2 separate regions of the Homo sapiens genome follow, and region 1 is linked to region 2. Evidence: fine-mapped expression QTL. A gene starts in region 2. The other region holds a variant in brackets. All regions are shown on one strand. Distances are between the middles of the regions.

Region 1 (8,684 bases), 290 kb before region 2:
CAACTGTGGTCTAAAAATAGGTGAGTATAGTACAATAAGATATTTTGAGAGAGAGACACATTTGCATAACTTTTATTGCAATATATTGCTTAATTGTTCTATTTTATTACTGTTTATCTCTTACTATGCCTAATTTACAAATTAAACTATCATAGCTATATATGTATAGGAAAAAACATCATATGTATAGGATACTAGCTGAGGTTTCAGGCATTCACTGGGGACCTTGGGATGTACCCTGCATGAATAAGGGGAGACTAATTTTTAGCTATAAATTTTCCTCTTTTCAATGTGTCCCATAAGTTTTGATATGTTGTATTTTATTTTCATTTGTCTCTAAGTACTTTCTAATTTCCCTTGTGATTTCATCTTTGATCTATTGATTAAGAGTATTGTGTTTAATTTCCACAAATATTTGAAGTTTCCACCTTTTTTAAATTATTGATTTCTAACTTTATCCCTTGTAGTCAATGAAGATACTTTGCATGACATCTACCTGTTTAATTCTATTGAGACTTGAGACTTAACTTGTGGCCTATTCTATATTCTATCCTGGAAAATGTCACATGTGCACTTGAGAAGAATATGTATGCTTGTATTTGGGGGTAAAGTGTTCTATATATGTCTGTTTCATCTAGTTGGTGTATTGTGTTGTTTAAGTCCTCTACTTCCTTACTTGTTTTCTGCCTGGTTGTTCTATCCATTACTGAGAGTGGGATATTGAAGTATCTGACTATTATTGTACAACTGTCTATTTCTCCATTCAGTTGGATTAGTTTTTGCTTCATATATTTTGATAGTTTATTATTAGATATGTATAAAGGTTTATAATTGTTATCTTTCCTTGCTGTATTGAACCTTTTATTAAAATGTTATGTCCTTCTTTGACCCCTGTAATGTTTTTGTATTTAAAACCTATTCTGTCTGATATTACTATCACTGCTTCTGCTCTCTTTTGGTTACTATTTGCATGAAATATCTTTTTCCATCTGTTCACTTTCAATCCATGTCTTTTTCAATCTATTTGATCTAAAGTGAGTGTCTTATAAACAGCATATAGTTTAATTATGTGTTTTTTTATCTAGTCTGCCAATCTTTCTTTTGATTGGAGAGTTTAATCTATTTATATTTATATTAATCACTGCTAAGAAAGAACTTAGTTGTGTCATTTGACTATTTGTTTTTAACATACCTTGTAAGATTTTTGTCCCTCATTTCCTGCATTATTGTCTTCTGTTATGTTTCATCGGTTTTTTTTGTAGTTAAATGTTTAACTTATTTTCTCATTTTCTTTTGTGTATATTCTATAACTATATTCTTTGTAGTTACTATAGGAATTACACTTAATACAGTAAAGTTATAATACTCTAATTTGAACTTATACCAGCTTAACTTGAATAATAAAGAAAAAATCTACTTTTTTACAGCCTCATCCCTACCTCTTTTAGTTGCTGATGTCACAAAATTACATCTTTTTCTATTGCATATGCCAAAATATATGCTAGTAACATTTTAAATACATTAGTTTCTTAAATTACATAGAAAATAGAATGTGGAGTTACAAACCAAAGTTACAAAAATCCTAGCTTTTAAACTAATAATTGTTTTTTTCAATGTGTTAGTCTCTTAAACCATATAGAAAACAAAAGGTAGTATTACAAACTGTTGTTATGATAATATTGACTTTTATAATTGCATGCGTGTGTACCTTTATTGAGATTCTTATTTATTTATAAGATTGTGAGTTACTGTCTAGTGTCCTTTTATTTTACCGTGCCTTACTCCCTTGAACATGTCTTACAGGGCAGGGCTAGTGATGACAAACTCCCTCATCTTTTGTTTTATCTGGGAATATCTTAATTTCTCCTTCACTTTGAAGGACAGTTTTGCCAGATATAGGAATCTTGGTTGACAGTTTTTTTTCTTTTCTTTTCGAACTTTGGATATATCAGCCTTTTAGCCTCCAAAGCTTCTGATGAGAAATCTGCTGATAATCTTATTGAAGATTTCTTGCATATGATGAATTATTTCTCTCTTTCTGCTTTCATGAGTCCCTCTTTGTCTTTTGAAAGTTTGATTATATATAATCTGTCTCTGTGTGAGTCTCTTTGAGTTTATTTTACTTGGAGTTATTTGAACTCCTTGGCATTTATGTTTATATTCTTCATCATATTTGTAAAGTTTCCACCATTATTTCTTTAACTGTTTCCTCTACCCTCTTCTCCTTTTCTCACAGTATGTATATTGGTGGTGTTCAACAGGCCCCTTAGGCTCTGCTCACTTTTTGTTAATCTTTTTTCTTTCTGTTTCTCAGACATGATCATTTCCATTGTTCTATGTTCAGGTTCATAGACTCTTTCTTTAACCTGCTCAAATCTGCCTTTGAATCCTTCTAGTGAATTTTTATTTCACTTATTGTACATTTCAGCTCCAGAATTTCTTATTGGTTTCTTTGTAGGTTTTCTGTTTCTTTATGGCTATTTCCACTTTGTTCAAATATTGTCTTCTTGACTTTCTCCATATCTCCCTTTAATTATTTGGGCATCTTTAAGACAATAATTTTAAGGGTTTTTGTCAACTAGATCTACCATCAGAATTATTTATTTATTTATTTATTTATTTATTTATTTAGAGACAGAGTCTCACTCTGTCACCCAGGCTGGAGTACAGTGGCATGATCTCAGCTCACTGCAACCTCCACCTCCTGGGTTCAAGGGATTCTCGTGTTTCAGCCTCCCAAGTAGCTGGGACTAGAGGTGTGCACCAGCACACCTGGCTAAGTTTTGTATTTTTAGTAGAGATGGGGTTTCACCATGTTGACCAGGCTGGTCTCGAACTCCTGGCCTCAAGTGATCTGCCTGCCTCGACCTCCCAAAGTGCTGGGATTACAGGCATGAGGCACTGTGCCCAGAGACCATCAGATCTTTTTCAGGGGCTGTTTTGTTTATTTATTTCTTCCTTTGAATGGACTATATTTTCCTGTTTCTTTGTGTATGCCTTATAATTTTTTTTATCAAAAACCAGACATTTAAATCTAATAATGCAGTAACTCTGGAAATCATATTCTTTCCCTTTCCCAGGTTATACTATTTTCATTTTTTTTTATTTTTTTAAAAATTGTTTTAGGTAGGTTGTTTCTGCGCCAAGGATAAGCCTGAGGTGTAAAATTAAGGTCTTCTCAGGTCTTTTCTGAGCCTGTCTTTCTCTGGGCATGAACATTTGTTCTAATTGCTAATGTATATGCAGTTGCTTTTGAATGTCCTAGTCTTCAATGTCTGCCTCCCAAAAGGGAAAAAAGAGAAAACTAAGGATGTGGAGAGTGGTGCCAGCCATTTACTCCTTTGGAAGTCACTTCAGCTGGACAGGGAGGGGCTTGCCACAGTGGGAGAGATGCAGCAACAATGGCCAACTATGTGTTTGTCTGCGCCTCTGTGATCAGAAGCTGCAATCAGTGATGGCTGGGCACAGTGGCTCATGCCTGTAATCTGAGTACTTTGGGAAGCTGAGATGGGAGGATCCGTTGGGGCCAGTAGTTCAAGACCAGCCTAGGCAACATAGTGAGACCTTGTCTCTAAAAGAATTTTAAAAATTAGCTGGGTGTGTTGGTACATGCTTGTAGTCCTAGCTACTTGGGAGGCTGAAGTGGGAGAATTTCCTGAGCCCAGAGGTTCCAGGCTGCAGTGAGTTATGATCGCACAACTGTGCTCCAGCCTGGGTGATGGAGCAAGACCTGGTTTAAAAAAAAAAAAAAAATCCACACACAGGTTATTCAAAACAAAACAAAACAAACAAAAAACAGAAGAAGAAGCTGCAATCAGTGAGCAGAGCACAAATGCACAAATCCCCAGCATTTGGAGGTCAGGGTCCCCTGGCTCCCACAAACTGTGTAAAAGCTGCTTCGGGAACAAGTACATACCTGCATACCATGGGGCTGGGGGTGAAGGAAGGATAGCTGCTACTGCAGTAAGAGCTGAAATTGACCACAGTTAACCACAATTTACTAAGCCTTCCCTAGACATTGCAAATTTTCA[A/G]CAGACTCCAGAGTTCCTCAATAGCTACATCCGACAGATTTTGCCAGTGAAATTGTTTCTAGGTGGGCAGACAAATTCCTGTTGCTTCCTACTTTGTCATCTTCCCAGAATGCCCTCCTTGCACAAAAGTTTTTGAAACCACTGAATCTTTTGTCACCTCCAAACAACACCCTAAATAAGCAGATCTTTAGTCTCCAATAATTCTAAAAGTCAGGAGTAGTCATATGTTTAAAATGAGTGATAATAATGTGCTGTGAGGATGAAATGGAATAATATAAATACCTTGAAATAGTGCTTAGCATATAATAAATGCTTAATAAATGTTAGCTATTCTTTATTATAATAATTTTTATTTAAATTATAATTACTTTCTGAACTGGGGAGATGCCTCACCAGAAACAGTTAAAATATCAAGGATGTTTTAAGAAAACTGCTGGACCAAGAATTAACACTTGCTACATATTGGTTCCTATTTTTATACCAAATTTTAAAACATTAAACATAAGACTTAAATTTTTGACAATTTCTTGCTCAATATCCTAGTATGCTTAGTTACCATTCTAATATATCTTTTCACACAGGTTCTCTCTGAAATACTTAACTTTAGAAAGATTTATAGTTCTTAAGTGGGGCTATTTTATTCCATTTTAGTCCTTGGTAGTAACTTCCAACCAATGAATTCCCTGTAGGAATACTCACAATTTAGTGTATGCAATATGATTAATTTTAGCTCCAGAAAAAAGGCAGACATTTTTTCTTTGAAAATTTGAGCGGCTTTAATGTATTGTGAGTATGCATGTAGGATCTCATTCAACTGCAGTTTCTTATCTCATCAAAGTTATCTCCTCACATCCTTATGACATTTGCCTTATCTTTAATTTGTAGGAGTAATATTTTCCAGGTCAGAGGAGAGAGTAAATTTTCCATAGCTAATTTTCCAACTAAAAGCTGATGTACATACAGACACAATTCTGTTGGCATTTCCAGGGCATTGAATACCAAAGAAAATATATTTTATGATTATCTTGGGGGCATGAATGTACCTATATTATAGAAGAATTGGTAATAAAGAAGATTTATCAATTTAATTACTGGTGTGTTACACTTGGGCACCATGTAGCATTTTTTTGGTCCTACAAATAACTGTACTGAACAGGGCTGAATCTATGATGTAGCCCACAATGAACTCTCAGAGGTGTGGTTCCTGGAAGAAGCCTCATTGCTGAAACTATCCTCTTGCCCAAGGCTTTGCCCAACATTGTGATACACATGGTCAAGTGCAAACATCTTCTTTAGGAATTTCAAAGATTTGGCCGGATGTCTTTGCAGTAGAATTACTCTTTGAGTTTGAGAAACTAATTGAGTTCAGTATAGGCATGGAAAGACACTTGGAGGAATATGCCAAAATATTAATAGTGGCTATGCCTTGGGGAATGGCGTTGAATGTGAAGGAGAAAAACCAGAAGGGAACTTTCGCTTATTATTTCATCTGCTTCTGTATTATTGAACTGTTTATAACCTAAATGTATTAATTGCAGAAAAAAGGCAGCAGCCTTTACCAGCCACCTGGTCTCCCAGCTCAGAAACCAGGGAAGTAGGCACACCATTTCTTTTTCCTTCACTCCTCATGCCTGATCAGTAATTGAACTCTGTGGGTTTTCTTCCTAAATATCTCTCAAATGCATCCCTGTTCCCCGTTTTCACAGCTGTGCCTCAGCCCAGGCACTCAGGAACACTCCTCTGACTAACAAAAAGAGCCTCTGAACCGACTCCCTGCAACTCCACCCATCTCCCCTCAGCTTCTGAGAGGCACTACCACCACCACCTCCCCTCACTCCCCCACCTTCCCCACTGCAACTCCTACTCTGACCCAGAGCAAACCTGACCTGGTCACTGCCATGCTGAAAATCCCCCACCCAGATACTGATAATTGGGGAGGCTATACGTGTGGTTGGGAAGGAGGGTAGATGGGGAATCTCTGTACCTCCCTCTGAGTTTTGCTGTGAACCTAAAATTACTCTTAAAAAATAAAGTCTATTAAGAAAAATACCCCACCTAGCACTCCTACCCAGCTCTAACCTCTTCTCTACAGACTTTAAAAAATTTGATTTGTTTATAATTGCAAATCTGACCAAGAACACCCAAGACCCATAGAAAGAATCATTCCTCAGCCTGGCATAAAAAATCCTCATGATCAAAACTGCCCATCTTCCTAGCTTCACCTTCTCATACCCCTGTGTCCTCACCTGTGTGGTTTCTTCTTCCCGGATTTACCCCTCCCTGCTTTGGTTTCCTTTGAAAGTTTTTGCTCTTTCTTCTCTTTGAAGTCTTCCTGACACCTCTAGACAGAGATGGTTCCACCCTTTCTAAATGGCTGATTAGCCCATTATCATGCATTACGGTAATGATTTAACTCCTTTCTTCCTACACTATTGTTTTTTGAGAACAAAGAGCTTTATTTATTTTGCCTATATATTTATAGAGGCATACCTTGGAGATATTGCAAGTTTGATTCCAGAACACCACAATAAAGCAAATATCACAATACAGCAGGTCACACAAATTTTTTGGCTTCCCAGTGCATATAACAGTTATGTTTATACTATATTGTAGTCTATAAAGTATGCAATAGCATTATGTCTTAAAAAAGTTCAAACCATAAATAAAAACACTTTATTGCTAAAAAAAAAAAATGGTAACAATCATTACAGCCTTCAGCAAGTCATAATCTTTTTGCTGGTAGTGCGGCTTGCTTCAATGTTGATGGCTGCTGATTGATCAGGGTGGTGTTGCTGAAGGTGGGGTGGCTGTGGCAATTTCTTAAAATAAGACAGTAATGAAATTTGCCACATCCATTGACTCTTCCTTTTACGAAAGATTTCTCTGTAGGGTGCAATGTTGTTTGACAGCATTTTACTCCCCTTCAAAACTGCCATCAGTCCTCTCAAATCCTGCCACTGCTTTATGAACTAAGGTTACGGAATATTCTAAATCCTTTGTTGTCATTTCAACAGTGTTTGCAGCATCTTCATGAGGAGTAGATTCCACCTCAAGAAACCACTTTCCTTGCCCATTCATAAGAAGCAACTACTCATCCCATCCTTAAAGTTTTATCAGGAGATTGCAGCAATTCAGCTGCATCTTCAGGCTCTACTTCTAATTCTAGCTTTCTTGCTGTTTTCATCACATCTGCAGTTATTTCCTCCATGAAAGTCTTGAACCTCTCAAAGTCATCCATGAGGTTGGGAATCAACTTCTTCCAAACTTCTATATTAATATTTTGACCCCCTCCCATGAATCATGAATGTTTTTAATGGAATCTAGAATGGCAATTCCTTTCCAGAAGGGTTTCAATTTTCTTTGCCCACATCCATCAGAGGAATCACTGTGGCAGCTATCGCCTTATGAAATATTTTTCTTAAATAGTATGACTTGAAAGTCAAAATTACTCCTTGATCTATGGGTGGCAGAATGGATACTGTGTTAGCAGGCATGAGAACATTCATCTCCTCTACATCTCTATCAGAGCTCTTGGATGACTAGGTCCATTACAAATGAGCAGTAGTATTTTGAAAGCTTTTTTTCTGAGCAGTAGGTCTGAACAGTGGGCTTAAAATATTCAGTAAACCATGCAGTAAACAGATGTGCTCTCATCCTGGCTTTGTTGTTCCATTTATAGAGCACAGGAAGACTGGATTTTGCATAATTCTTAAGGGCCTTAGGATTTTCAAAATGGTAAATGAGCACAAGCTTCAACTTAAAGTCACCAGCTACGTTAGCCCTTTATAAAAGAGACGGCCTGCCCTTTGAAGAGAAGCTTTTTTTTTTTTTTTTTTTTTTTAGATGGAGTCTCACTCTTGCTCAGGCTGGAGTGCAGTGTCGTGATCTCATCTCACTGCAATCTCTGCCTCCCAGGTTCAAGTGATTCTCCTGCCTCAGCCTCCCTGAGTAGCTGGGATTACAGGTGCATGCCACCATGCCCGGCTAATTTTTTGTATTTTTAGTAGAGATGGGGTTTCACCATGTTGGCCAGGCTTGTCTCAAGCTCCTGACCTCAAGTGGTCCACCTGCCTCAGCCTCGCAAAATGTTAGGATTACAGGAATGTGCTACCACCCCTGGCCTGCCCTTTGAAACTTTGAAGCCAGGCCTTGACTTCTCCTCTCTAGCTATGAAAGCCCTACATGGCATTTTTTTTTTCCAACAGAAGGCTGTTTCATTTTCACTAAAAGTCTGTTATTCAGTTTAGTTACCTTCATCAATGATTGTAGTTAGATCTTCTGGATAACTTGCTGTAGCTTCCACATTAGCACTTCCTGCTTCACATTGCACTTTTATGTTCTAGAAATGGCTTCTTTCCTTAAACCTCATGAACCAGCCTCTGCTAGCTTTCAGCTTTTCTTCTGCAACTTCCTCACCTCTCTCAGCTTTTATAGAATTAAATAGAGTTAGGATTTTGCTCTGGATTAGGTTTTGGCTTAAAGGGAATATTGTGGCTGGTTTGATCTTCTATCCAGACCACTAAACAGCAATAAGACTGTTTCACTTTCTTATCATTTGTGTGTGAGCACATGTTGTTGGAAAAATGGCACCAATAGGCTTTCTCAAGGCAAGGTTGCCACAAGCCTTCAATTTGTAAACAACAAAATATCAGT
Region 2 (8,594 bases):
AATGTTCTTAGATGAAACCTTGTGTGAGCTCTCCTACCAACCTTTGACCTTAGGGCTCGACTCACTGGGAAGATCACATCAGCAACAGGTGAGTTCTTTCCAGCCAGGTGTCTCTCCCACTATAGAAGGTGGCACATTTCCCATCTGCTTGGTATAAATGGCTCCTAGAGTCTAGAGGCTATAAGTGATGTGATGAAAATAATTGCGTGTGTATGATCCTGGAGAGTATCGAGGATCAGATTTTTTTCCCCAAGTGATCACACCACAAGTGTACAGATCGCTTTGGGCCAACCTCAGAAGCCAACTAACTGATCTTTTCCTCTTTTCTTTGGTATCTTAACCTCAAAAGCAGATGTCATATAATTGGGTAGAAGCCAGCACCCGTCCCTGGCTGTTCTTTTATTTGAATGATGAGGGGTCAGAACATGATATCTAAGGCCTTTGATGCTTTTCAAAAACAACAGATGGGAGGTTTCAGTGAAAAATAAAAAGCTAGCAATTTAATTTATACCGAGTAAAGACAAAAATTTCAAAGGAATCTAATCAGATCTAAAAGCATATGACCAGTATTTCACTTTGACTTTAAAGAACAGGTGGATTGAGAAGCTTTGCTGTGGTAAACTTGGTGTTTCGGTGAATTAATGTAACCAAATGATTACTATAAAAATAGCATTCATTAATTACTAGATTTATCCTTTTTAAGGGTGCTAGGGAGGAAAAGAAAATTCCCTGTAAAGAAGAACCAGAAAATTTAGTAAAGAGGGTTTTGGAGACCTGATTCTCATGCTACTTAGGAAGCTGAGAATTTAAAATAGATTTTACATAGTTTGGTTGTAGGTATTTTTTCTCATTAAGATAGGATATTTTTACTGAAGTTGATTTATCTAGCTGTGCTGCTCAGACTTTTAGGAGGCAATGCATCTTTTAGTATTGCGGGGTGATGGTGGGGAGGCTATGGGTGTAGCACCAGACTTGAAGCTAATTTGAAATCCCAAGTAGTAGACAGCATCTGGCCAATGAAATGCCTTCTTAGCATCCAGTATGAACTGGCAGGGTGATCATATTGATGATCATAATTAATTTATTATACAATCAAGGACACTTTTGAGATAGAAAGGAGGCACTATTTTCAATTATGCCCAGACAACAGGTGAAAACTGGATCTGTCCCAGGACATGGGGTCACCCAAAACTGAATGTGCAACAGAATTACCTGGAGGGCTTGTTAAAAGAGATTGCTGGGCTCCACCCCCATTGTTTCTGATTCTGTAGGTTTGGGGTCAATAATTTGCATGTCTGACAAGCTCACTGGTGATGTTGATTCAGCTGGTATAGTATCTGCACTTTGAGATCCACTGCTCTATCCAAACAAACTTGGCACTCTTGTACTGATATAATTTTCAATTAAAGGAAACACTCCTTATTGTCCATCATCCTCCACTAGACAGCCTTCTGCAGGTGAGGATGCTCATGATGATGGCAGAATATGCTTGTGTTGGTGTCAGCCTACCTCCTGGACTGGTCTGTTTTTGGTATTCTAGAGACTGCTCACACTGGGAGGTTGAAACAGCTCACTTGTGACCGACCTAACTTCTAAGGATATCCTGGGGCCAAATGGAATAAACCTGTGACTTCTGAGTTCATAGAGCCTTAGGCTTAGGGAAGCCTCAACATCTAAATTCACTCAGAAGCACTTTATAGAGTGAACGTTCTTCTAGGGAGCCGTGTTCTTCTTCTGTTCAGCACTTTAGAAGCATCATAGGTGGCCTTGCTCAGGATAGTCACACCCTCTGTACCTGCTTCAACTGTGAAGTGGGCACCGTAATACTTCAGGAAATTATACTTCTTCCTCTGCACCCGGCCCACTTCCCCTGTGTCTTCATGCTTTGAGTACCTTGGAATCTCCCCACTGTTCTTTTGGTTTTATTTTTGTTTGTTTTTGTTTTTGAGACAGGGTCTCACTCTCTCGCCCAGACTGGAGTGCAGTGGCCCGATCTCAGCTCACCACAACCTCTGGCTCCCAGACTCAAGCGATTCTCCTGCCTCAGCCTCCTGAGTACCTGGGATTACAGGCATGCACCACTACCACCCAGCTAATTTTTGTATTTTTAGTGGAGATAGGGGTTTTACCACGTTGGCCAGGCTGGTCTTGAACTCCTGACCAGCCTCTCCTGAGGCCACTCACCTTGGCCTCACAAAGTGCTGGGATTACAGGTGTGAGCCACCATGCCTGGCCTCCTTGTTTTTTTTTTTTCCAGACATGACAATATAGAGTTCATTCATATATACCAATGTGTTAATTGTGTGCACACAATTGTATGCATGTTTGTATATATAGTATTCATAAATTTTACCGAAATATAAAATTCATTGCATGTTTACAAATCATAAAATATGCCATTTTGGTATTTTCCGAGTGCATTGTTTTCTTTTTAACTTAATGGCTAGGTTTTTTTTTAGTGCTAAAACTGATTATCAAGTTTGTATGTTTTAGAAAGATGAATATACAAACTATTTATTTTTTTACTAGTGTGATCTTTGATTCATTTTCTCCGTAGGATTGATTGTCCTTGGTTAACAAAGTATATGTAGACAAGATGGATTGCATGGGCTTGGTTGAATAAGCTGACATTGTGGGTCTGTGCTAATTCTCCTGAATGTAATTTAATTTATAATGTTTAAAGAATTGTAAGTAATTTAGCTGATTAGTCATAGACTATAAATAAGTAGCATATGAACTCAAATATTTGCTATGCCTAGGACAGATATTTCTGTGATTTACAATTTAAAGGCATTTTATTTTAGTAGGTGTTAATGGGGTTAACTTATCCTAATAATGACAAAGATAAAAACTTTTACCTATATAAGTGTATGTACAAGTAAATGCAACTATATATCTGTACACATATGCAATTGCAAACAAAGACATACTGACCTAAGTATTATGCTAATCGATTTTGTAGTTTTGAGAAGCAATTTTAATACACATTTACGAGCTTTTGAAATGTTTGTCCTGGATGAATACCTTTTAAACATTTTCCTTGATATCTCTTCATCACAGATATATTTTGACAGCCACGATTGGAAATCCTAAATCATAAATGATAATATTTCAGTATTGGATCCCCATATTAGCATGGGGAAATATATTAATATACCAATTATAGTTGTCAAACAAAAAGTAACCTACTGAGAAAAATGTGAGTGGCAATGGTTCAGTGTTCCTCAGCTTTGTTGCTGCCCAGCTCAGAAATCTTTTCTGTTCCCATGCACCATTCACATACATGCAAGTCATTTCATGGAAAAGCTGTTTTCTTACCTGCGTCTAGGCCTTCATCTGTGAGAGTCATGCTTCACTCATTTTGAAATACCTCTCATTGTAGGCTCCAAGGTAACACTGTTACAGAGTTCTTGCTCATCTTCAACTACGGATGAAAATCAGGAACTTGACAGAAACCACAAGATAGTGGGTCCCTCTGCTGCTGTTGTCAGATAGAATTTATTGAAGACTGGGACGTGGAAACAAAGAGGAAGGAAGAGACGTTTTAATCTCTGTGGGTGTTAGGCTGACTTCTGAGCTAGTTCCTTTCCTCCAGTAATGCAAAAACAGTCCTGCTTTCTTATTTCTCCTCCTACTTTTCCCCACATCCCTACATCATCTGATGCACAGCCAGGCAAAAACCTGTTTTCTTTTCTAACCTTTGCCATTGTCAAATTCAACATGTGGTATGAGGTGGAGAACTGATGTGTAAGATATGGTTCTTTCTGAAGCACCCTCAGAAAATTGTCAGCAGCTTCACAGTATAACGTGCAGAGATGGGTAGTTGGAGCTACCTGGAAATGCGGAATTAACAGAATAAAGAAGTATTTTGACACCAATGTCGACATATTCTAGATAAGAGGTGTTGCATTGTCATTTTTCCCACATTAATTTTCCCATATTTGAACATTACTGATAAATAGATCACAAGTAGGACTTCAGATAAACTCCTCGTGTGTTAACATTTTGGTGTTTGTGCTGTGTTACTATTTTGAAAGTCTTCATATTTTTAGTTCCTTTCAGGCTCTGTAATATAATTGGTGATGTCCTGCAGTGCTCCACTGTCTTTCCCATTGACTATTAGTGCCATTAGATTTGGAAGTTTTCAGAAGATGGCTACAAAGTCCTCTTCAAAGTGTATAACTCAGAACCAGAAAGAAAGAAGACAAGGGGCTGAAAAGCTTACTTTATAAGGTTCCTGCATTTTAAGTGTATTTACTTAGGCTGTTCCATTGCCAAATTATGGGTAACAACTAGTAAAGTTCAGCTTGCCTTAAAAACATAGCTATACATTTAGTTATAATAATTATAACTGGCTTATGACATGCCCGTTACTATTCTAGTTGCTTTATATGTACTTGCTACGTAGGAGGCAGTGTTCTGGACATTGGAGATGGAGTAGTGACTGACACATACCCAAACAGTTATTTCCCTCATGAAGAGTATTTTCTTACTTTCTGTCTCACAGACTTGCTAGTCACTGTTGATCCTTGGCAAAGACCTGTGAGACACAGAGCTTGTTTAGAGAAGTTCGCCATTTCTCCCTGCCAGAGGGACTCTTCTTCAGACCCCCAGCGGGCCCCAATAGTCCTCACTGATGCTTTGATTGAGGGGCTAAGAATACTGATGTGCATAGAGAGGCTTGTTAGCTTCAGCTGCAGTGAGATCTGGTAGGTAAATAAACTTAAGGACAAGTGGATGTGAGGAGGAGCCGCTAGAGCCTGGTTATTACCAGGGCACATTGCAGAGTCCTCCAGATGTAAACATTTTGCTGATTAAATTGATGATTTGGCAGGAACCGTATCTCTAAGGTGCGACTCTCAAGACTTCCCTGATTTATTGCAGGAGATGCTGTTTACTCTGACAGTCTCAAAAACACCCATTAATTGTTCCGGGTCCCTTTTGTGCTTCTTGACTTCCCCGTGGGGTGTTTCACATAGATGTTATTGAGTATGACTGGGGAGAACATGATAATTTGTTGCTTCTTGACTTCCCCGTGGGGTGTTTCACATAGATGTTATTGAGTATGACTGGGGAGAACATGATAATTTCTTTGACTGGAGCTGCTTGCTTGCCTCTTAATGCCAGGAGTTGCAAAGTCCAAGGCCAAAAGGATAGCCCTACAGGTGGTCCCCTCGTGGCAGGTGGTACAAATGGGTTGGACTCTGTGTAAGACACTTGGGAGTAGAGGGAGTATGGAGAAATGGAAAGCTAAAGGGCCCACCCAGGGGGACAGTTGTGTCTGGAAGCTTGCCAGAGTCATGGGCCTCATCTTGGGATGGGCCAGTGTCTTCAGAACATTAAACGCTGATTTGCATGTACTGTTCTAAACACTCTGTGTGTTTTAGCTTGATTACTCACAATGGCTCCATGAGTAAAGTAGGTCTGTCTACTACTTCTTCCCCACCTTTTTCTTAATAGACAAGGAAACTGAGGCATGGAGATGTTACATCAGGTTGCTGGAGCTGGGCAGATCCTGGAGCCTGTGCACTGCTACTGCCTTTATATGTCTCCTCTGATTTCATTTGTTGGTGTCTAAATCGAATACCTTACAAACCAGTGTAGACCTGATACCCTGTGGGCTAAAACAAAACCTGAGTGTGCACTGTATTGGGCTTGTGAGCAGTCAGCTTGTGACCTCTGTTCTGTGGTTTTATTGGCACGTAGCAGTACAAGGATGGTGAGGGGTGGGTAGGGGGCAGACAGCTAGGCACTTGAAAGGAAAGCTCATCTGGAAAGATTGGATCGTCTCAAATGCACATACTCGTACACTCGATTGAAGCGTACTCTGTGCCTACTAGATCTTTTCACAGCCAAAACACCTGGCAACCCTTGGAGAAGTAACTATTCCTTTTTTTCACAAGTAAGAAAATAGAGCCTCAGAAAATTTAACAGTTGTCTAAGCTAGAAAGTAGCAGGACTGGACTTTGAAGTAGTCTTTAGGTTGTGCTGTACATTTTGTGGATATGCTTAAATCACAGTTTAGCTTGTACACATTTTCCTTTATTAGAATTGGAAGTAAGTATTAATGTTTGAAAAAATATTTTAGCCTGACAATATTTATTCTATCTTCATATGTTTTTGAAATTAGATATTTTAAACTAGGCACGGTGGCTCACGCATGTAATCTCAGCAGTTTGGGAGGCCGAGGCAGGCAGGTCACAAGGTCAGGAGCTCCAGACCAGCCTGACCGACATGGTGAAACCCTATCTCTACCAAAAATACAAAAAAAAAAAAAAAAAAAAAAAAAAAGTTAGCTGGGCATGGTGGAGTTCGCCTGTGATCCCAGCTGCTCAGGAGGCTGAGGCAGGAGAATCACTCGAACCCGGGAGGTGGAAGTTGCAGTGAGCTGAGATTGCGCCACTGTACTTCAGCCTGGGCAACAGAGTGAGACTCTGTCTCAAAATAAATAAATAAAAAATAAAAAGATATTTTATTATGACTTTTAGCAACGTAGGTAATGACTCTTTTCAACACTAGACACCAGGCATAATACAACATAGCCAATAACGACATTATAATTAAAATAATAGAGGGCCTGGTCCTTGTGTGCAAGAATCTTTTAAAAAACAAAATCTAAAATAGTCAATATTTTCCTTTTATCTGTGGTGTTTTGATTTATGCTAAATAGTTCTGAATTCCCATTTCCTTTGGTGGAATCCTAAGATTAAAGTACTGTGATTTCCTCCTGACTAATCTTTTTCTCAGAGCCCTCAACATAACCCTGATATGACAACCACCCCTAGCCCACCCCACGTGCTCACACATTCTCCAATACCATTTAGAGACAGGACTCTGCCTTATTAGTAATAGGACTGGTTATATATAAACATCCCTTGTGTATTCATACTACAAATAGAATGAGTTTAACACACGTAATCCCCAAATATGTCTGTAACTGTTTCCAGTCAGTTTCTATCCAGGCCGTCATCGACTGCGCATAAATAGCTGGCTGGCTTACATTTTGATTCCATAAATGTCCTATTTTGCTCCTTACCCCGGAATTCACCTATGCATAATTGTTACCATATGTCTTTTGAAATCATTTTTCTTTAAAGTAAGTACAGAGACAACTTCATTGTTACTGCCCTTCCCCTGCCTTTCCCTGGTTGCTTTATTGAGCATAGTGAGTAAGACACTAGCGCATCCGGCCTCATCCCCACTTGCTCTCTTGGAGACTTGTTCATGTGAGCCCTGTATAGACCTTATTCTTTTTCGTAGCTTTGTAGTATTCCATAATTTGTTTAATCAGTACCTATTGATGGATTTTCAGATAAATATGAACATTTTCAATGAATTTATTTTAACCATAGCAGATATTTGCTGGGTTATATAATTTAGTTTTTTTTTGTTTTTTTTTGTTTGTTTGTTTGTTTTGCTGGCAAGTTATTTATAATTGTGTGTGTGTGTTTTGTATGTGTTGGGGGGCATGGCTGCCGAAAGGATTCCACTGGTTGTTGAGAAAGATGTTGACGTAAGAATGTAGAGGATTTTAGTAAAGGCCCGGTGTAAACATTTTATGAAAGTACAGTGTACAAGGATATTTAAAGGAAGCATATTTGGAAATTGTCCTCTATAGGATCTCTGAAGGAACTAGCATCCAAAATGCTTCTTGTTGGATGGCTCTTTTACTTGTAGAATGGGGGTGAAAGTCAACTTAGTACTGTATTAAAAGAATGATGTGAGCCAAGGTTTAATGTTAGGAAAGCCAGCAAAGGTGGAGGAGCGCGTAATGTCGGGGATCCAAAATGTCACGCTCAGGACTTCCTAATTTAGTGTGCTGTAAAGTTTTTGAGCTTTGTAGTAAAATAATTGAAAAAGTGTTTTGAAAAAATTGTAATCTGATAGGAAAACATTGAATGCAGACATGCCTTTTTATGTTTCCCTATGTGAAGCATTCAGTTCTACCAGCTTGTTGATTTAGAGTAGTGGAGAAAGGGGGCAGAAATTACATCATTAAGATGTGAGATAAGTCACCACATTATAAAATAATGCCTTTTTGTTAAACCTCTTGCAATGAATGACAGGACATGGGACTTCATTGGCAATTGTGCACTTGCCTTCATCTGAGAATTACAATGGAGAAACAAATGCCTGGTACAATATCACCCCCTTCTGGTAGATTGAAAGAAGTAACAGTTTTTAAAAAAATTAATAGGTGCAATTTGTACATGTATTGTAGGCAGTTCACAAAACCTCACTTTGGTGTGGATACTAACGTTGAGTCATGGTTGATTGTCTAATCCCAATTAGTTGAAGTGTGCAAACAGATTTTCTGTATTGCTAGCATTAGATTGGGTTTAAATCTTGAAAATCAGAAGGACTGAATCTCGACTGATGTTAGCAAAGAATCAGAATTTAGAACTTTGTTACAAAACAAAAACTTTTGTATGTGTATTTTCTCTTTTCAGTATTTTTTTTGGAAAGATGCTGAGGAAGCAGAGGAAAGCATTTTCTTTTTCACCTTGAGGTCTCACAAATGTGTCATCTCTGATTATCTTCCTGTTGTTCCCATTTGCTTGCAAGACTCACCACGTCTTTAGACATGTCCCTAA

Evidence for each region. PIP is the estimated chance that this variant, and not a neighbour inherited with it, causes the effect.
Region 1: its variant is fine-mapped to the expression of P2RY14 in whole blood (INTERVAL, PIP above 0.99). The same link has a PIP of 0.9 or more in neutrophils.

What each region holds. Positions count from the first base shown.
Region 1 is chr3:150,985,986-150,994,669 of GRCh38, forward strand. The region is part of intron 1 of CLRN1-AS1 (CLRN1 antisense RNA 1); the gene reads left to right. Among named protein-coding and RNA genes, the nearest start is that of CLRN1, 18 kb to the left of the region's middle. The variant A/G (reference allele first, on the strand shown) is at 4,032.
Region 2 is chr3:151,274,969-151,283,562 of GRCh38, forward strand. P2RY14 (purinergic receptor P2Y14) reads right to left here and starts at 3,574. Exons shown (of 3, transcript NM_014879.4): 1 at 3,319-3,574. All of the region lies in intron 16 of MED12L (mediator complex subunit 12L), which reads left to right.